Regions from separate parts of the Homo sapiens genome. Here region 2 is linked to region 1. The links come from fine-mapping of genetic effects on plasma protein levels. Region 1 holds a variant in brackets. A gene starts in the other region. All regions are shown on their forward strands. Region 1 has its middle 79 kb from the start of FAM30A. Region 2 holds the start of IL13 (interleukin 13).

The links. PIP is the chance, under the fine-mapping model, that this variant and not a neighbour inherited with it causes the effect. The UK Biobank Pharma Proteomics Project read protein levels with antibody pairs (Olink). The fine-mapping took linkage between variants from a reference panel, not from the people measured, so its PIPs are less certain.
Region 2: IL13 starts here. The variant in region 1 is fine-mapped to the plasma level of the IL13 protein (UK Biobank, PIP above 0.99).

The regions. Positions count from the first base shown.
Region 1 is chr14:105,995,528-105,998,451 of GRCh38, forward strand. It overlaps IGH. Among named protein-coding and RNA genes, the nearest start is that of FAM30A, 79 kb to the left of the region's middle. The variant TAAA/T (reference allele first, on the strand shown) is at 1,710.
Region 2 is chr5:132,656,742-132,659,665 of GRCh38, forward strand. It overlaps IL13 (interleukin 13), which reads left to right and starts at 1,432. Exons shown (of 4, transcript NM_002188.3): 1 at 1,432-1,619; 2 at 2,677-2,730. The coding sequence starts at 1,446. RefSeq lists silencers at 1-76, 157-216.

The DNA.
Region 1 (2,924 bases):
ACACAGTCATCAATTTAAACTGTCAGTAGGGTGCACTTTCCACAGCTGAAACAGACAGCCTCCCTGGGGAAAACTAAATATAAAGACCCAGGATCAAACAGGGACACAAAAGCAAGTATCATGGGAGGAACTTGAAATCTCTGTGGACAGCAGAAGCTGACTTCAACTCTGATAATTGTGGCATCCATAAATTGCAAATATAGCCCTGAATAGATACACACAAATATCTATAATGAAGGCCCAGCAGAATGGAATGTGTTACCATCTTCAGGAAGAAAATAATGAATACATGAGTACAAGAAAATAAATTACAAATTAAAGTCAAACTGGAATTCTATATATATTAAAAATTTCATTTAAAGCGAAAGTCAAATGAATACCCTGTAAGACAAATCGATTCTGAGAAAATTTATTGCTAGTGCATTCATCCTTCAGTAGGTGCTTTGGCAAATTTTCCGCCAGGGTGAGTAGCCATATGATATACATCCGAAACATGAATCTATCCAAATAAAAAATGTGGTCAAGAATGAAAAAATGAAGTTGAAATGTAGTTTTTATATTTTTAATTGTTCTAATATATGTCTATGTAATGATAAAAATGCACATATTATATTTTATAGCACATATAAGTGCAAACTGAGAATAAACTAAGACAACGGATGAGAAAGAGGGTTTAGAAGAATAAGTTATAATAGCTCTACAACCTATGAAGAGGTTTTACGTTATTTGAATTAGAATCTGATTATACACAATTCTTATTGTATATCTTAGGGCCAATACAATATTCATAAAAGATGAGCTAAACAATAAGTTAATAGAGAAATAAACATGATCATAAAATGCCAAATTAAAATAGAAATTAACAGAAAAATAGTAATACCAGTTTTAAAATAGAATTTATTATAGTTGATTTAAAAAGCAAGACCCAACTACTAGCTCTGTACAGAAATTTGCTCTACATAGAAAAGTTAAATACAGGAAAACATGGACTATGAAAATATGAATGAAAAGAAAGCGTGCTTAGCTATGTTAAATTCAGACAAGGTAGACATAAGACTTTCAGGAATCAAGGGGCATATTACATAGGGTAAAGGGATCAGTTTTCTAAAAGGCATCACCAAAGATTTAACCAATGGATCTGGGATAGAAAATAGGCTAACATCTATAACAGATAGCGAATTCGACACTTACTGTGATTGACAAAACAAACGTGATAAAATAGGTAAATATATAAGTGACCAGAATCAACTTATTTGACTAGTTTCATTTATAGAATATTCAATGGGAAGACAGCAGGAACCCAAACTGTGATTAACCAGAAGATATGAGAGGAACATGGTGACTGAATTTGATGTGGTTACCTGGGTTGAACAAAGAAACAAACAAAAAGCAATAGGAAAGTGAGACCTTATCTCAAAAAGAAAAGAAAAAGGAAAAAAGGAAACTGTTAAAAATTGGCAAAATTCAAATAAATCCCAGAGCTGAATAAACAGAAACTTATCAATGTAAATATATTAGTCCCATGTCCCATGTTTTTTTTGACATATTAACTTTAGTGAAAACTTGGAGATGGATGTGAACACACTGTATTTTCCTTACAATTGTTCTGATAACCTATAATTATTCCAAATAAAAAGTGTGTAAAATATAAAGTAACAATCATAAAAATAATAGTTCAAAGACCTTATAAAATAGGCTTCTGAAAATAA[TAAA/T]ATTGTTACTAAAATTATTATGGATAATTATTTCAGAGGATAATCCTGAAATGATCATCGAAGTGGTGGACAGATGTTTATTTATTTCAGAAAAAGATGTGAGGCATCTCATATTAAACGCTAGTGATGGAAGTGTTTATAGAGTTGTTTTATCATCTATAATATGATGGATGAAAAGCATTATCATAAGCATTTGATGGATGAAAAGCATTACTATCATAAGCATTTATGTAGCCAATATCATGAACGTATTATAATTTCCTCAGTTGTGCACCATTTTTGTGTTAATACCATGTGAACGTTTTCTACTGCATGTGTCATATCTAAACATTTGAACTAGTTTGTTTGTTATTAATGTGACTCTTGTAAATGCTGTAGGCATTGCTGATGTTCTCTGTAATTTCTCTACTGGTGTTTTTTTCCTAATATTTTAACATGATAAATTTGGATTAATATAACTACGTAATTTAATAATATATTTTAAACTTCATAGTTGTACACACAGACACACACACACACGCACACATACACAACAGCCCAGCAATGACACATATACCCGTCCATGCAAAAATGAATGTATATTAAACACCAAAACAACACACCCATTTTTTTCTATATTATTTTAATTATTTAATTGAATGTAACTCGTATTTGCAGTTTCATTTTTGAATGAATGTAAATGCCATTCTTGCCAAATATATTACTTAAGTGTACAATGGTATTTACTTTTTTTTTTTTTTGAGACAGAGTTTTGGTCTTGTCGCCCAGGCTGGAGTGCAATGGCGTGTTCTCGGCTCACCGCAACCTCCGCCTCCCAGGTTCAAGCGATTCTCCTGCCTCAGCTTCCCCGCCACGCCCAGCTAATTTTGTATTTTTAGTAGAGAGGGGGTTTCTCCATGTTGGTCAGGCTGGTCTCGAATTCCCGACCTCAGGTGATCCACCCACCTCACCCTCCCAAAGTGCTGAGATTACAGGCGTGAGCCACTGCGCCCAGCCAGTATTTACTTTTTAAATATCAGTCAGTTATTAATAAATTGAATAACTAATAAGACAAACATCACTTAAATTTTTATTAAATCATTGATTAAAGTAACATTGTATTTTTTTAAACTAGGCAGGATAGAACTTTTCTATTTGAAAAATTTTTTAAAAAACTTTTTGGCGTTAATTTTCAATACAAACTCTAGTCGTTATTTGCCAATATGCCTTTAT
Region 2 (2,924 bases), not on the chromosome of region 1:
ACTCCAGGCACTGGGGGCCCTCGAGGGGAAGGGGCAGACTTCTGGGAGTCAGAGCCAGCAGCTGGGCTGGGAAGCTTCGAGTGTGGACAGAGAGGGTGGGAATGACGTTCCCTGTGGGAAGAGAGGGTGGGCAAGCCTGGGATGCCTCTGAGCGGGAATCCAGCATGCCTTGTGAGGAGGGTCACAAGCACACCCTTGTGAGGAGGTTGAGCCCCATCGAGGACAGGACGGAGGGAGCCTGAGCAGGCAGAGAGGGGGCCTGGGGAGGCGCTGGTTCGGGGAGGAAGTGGGTAGGGGAGAAATCTTGACATCAACACCCAACAGGCAAATGCCGTGGCCTCTGCTGTGGGGGTTTCTGGAGGACTTCTAGGAAAACGAGGGAAGAGCAGGAAAAGGCGACATGGCTGCAGGGGCCAAGCCCAGGAGCCGCCCTCCACAGCACTCATTCTGCAGAAGGGAAATTTGAGGCCCCCAGACGGCAGGGGTTGATCCTGCAGAGACTGGTGAGCAAAGGGGATCACCCCAAGCCCCAGTGGCACTAGGAACACTTACAATCTCTGACCTGGACTAAGGCTGCCAGCCTGGCCCAGTTAAGAGTTTCCCAGAAGGATGGCCCATACACTTTAAATTAAAGGGGCCAGACACGTGCACACTACTTCCAGCCACTCTGGAAGCTGAGGTGGGGGGATCGCTTGAGTCTGGGAGTTGGAGGCCAGCCTAGGCAGGCAACATAGTGAGACCCCATCTCCAAAAAAACAAAACAAAACAAAACAAAAAAACACCAAAAAAGCTCCCAGAAAGACCTCTGAATCTTTCTGGATCTCTCAGTGGAGACCTGGAAATCTGAACTTTGACAATCCCTCTCACAGTGGGGCCAAGGAGGAATTAGGCAAGCCAAAAGAAGTGAACTTTACTCTTCTATTGCCTGTTTGAATTTTGTATCCAAGCAAGTGTTACTTAAGTAATTTAAGAGACTGGTTCATCGAAAAAATAAAACTCCCCAAATTCCCATAGCTGGTAGACTGTGGTCACAGCCACAGTGCACTAAGACTATCTGCTCAGCACTTCTGGTGACCCAAAAGGGTCTGAGGACAGGAGCTCAGAGTTGGGTCAGCTGTCCAGGTACTCAGGGTTGTCACAGGCAAAACTGCTGGAACTCAGGGCAGCATTGCAAATGCCACGCCGCTCTCAGGGCCCCTTGCCTGCCGCTGGAATTAAACCCACCCAGATCTTGGAAACTCTGCCCTGGACCCTTCTCAATAAGTCCATGAGAAATCAAACTCTTTCCTTTATGCGACACTGGATTTTCCACAAAGTAAAATCAAGATGAGTAAAGATGTGGTTTCTAGATAGTGCCTGAAAAAGCAGAGACCATGGTGTCAGGCGTCACCACTTGGGCCTATAAAAGCTGCCACAAGACGCCAAGGCCACAAGCCACCCAGCCTATGCATCCGCTCCTCAATCCTCTCCTGTTGGCACTGGGCCTCATGGCGCTTTTGTTGACCACGGTCATTGCTCTCACTTGCCTTGGCGGCTTTGCCTCCCCAGGCCCTGTGCCTCCCTCTACAGCCCTCAGGGAGCTCATTGAGGAGCTGGTCAACATCACCCAGAACCAGAAGGTGAGTGTCGGCTAGCCAGGGTCCTAGCTATGAGGGCTCCAGGGTGGGTGATTCCCAAGATGAGGTCATGAGCAGGCTGGGCCTGGTCCTAAGATGCCTGTAGGTCAGGAAAAATCTCCATGGACCAAGGCCCGGCCCAGCCATGAGGGAGAGAGGAGCTGGGCTGGGGGGCTCAGCACTGTGGATGGACCTATGGAGGTGTCTGGCAGACTCCCCAGGGACTACCTGCTCTCCTGGCCTGGCCTTGTCTGCCACTGCCAGCTCCTACTCAGCCATTCCTGAACAGAGGACAGCAGAGAAGGGCCAGCACCCTCCCAGAACCATGTGGCATTTGCCAACTGGATTTTGACCATAACAATGCAGCCATTCTCCCCAGCACCATCATAGGCCCGCCCTTACAGGAGGATTCCTTAGTAGAGTCCGCTCCTTGCCCCACTAGTAACAGCTCACATGTCTGAGCACTGCTTACACCAGGCCTGGTGCACGTGCTTTATGTGTCATTTCATCACTGCCAGCCACCTCAAGAGGCAGGTACGATGAACCCATTCTGCTAAGGTTCAGTGAGGTTAAGTGACAGAGGCTGGATTCAAGCCAGGCCTGGCCAACACCAGAGTGTCCATGCTCCTAACTGCAGTGTTCCCTCACCATCAGAAGGCAGGGCATTTAATACACCAGATCCCCACCGCCTCCCATCTGATTTGTCTTGGTCAACAGTGGCCCAGGCCACTCCTACTTCACTCGTCCCCACCCTGGCCCTTCCCGCAGGCCCCTGTCCTCCTGCCCTGACTATGGCAAGCCTTGCATGCAGCTTGTCCCTTACTAGTGGTGTCAATTTTTTTCTCTCAGCTCCAAGACCCTAAACAGTGGGACCTCACCCCTATGCCTGCTGTTCAAAGCAGAAAACGAAGCTCAGGAATGCTGAGGGGCTGCCAGGCCTGCCTCTGTGCCACACCAGGGATGCTTGTGGGGCCTGTGCTGGGGCAGACCTGGCCTGGGCTGCCAGGGCAGGCCCACAACCCCTGCCAGCACTCTGCTCACTGTCACTTTGCTCCCACAGGCTCCGCTCTGCAATGGCAGCATGGTATGGAGCATCAACCTGACAGCTGGCATGGTAAGGACCTTTGGGTGCAGGGAGGATGGGGCAGAGGCTCCAGGCCTTGGGCTTATCTTCTCTGAGCCTCCCTTCCATGGCTGGGGTTCCAAGCAAGCTTCAAGTGCTCTCCTCCCTCCCGCCATAATCTGGCCCCTTCCCGCCCACCACCCAGACTCACCTGCGCCAGGCATCTCAGCCCCATCTTCCTGCAG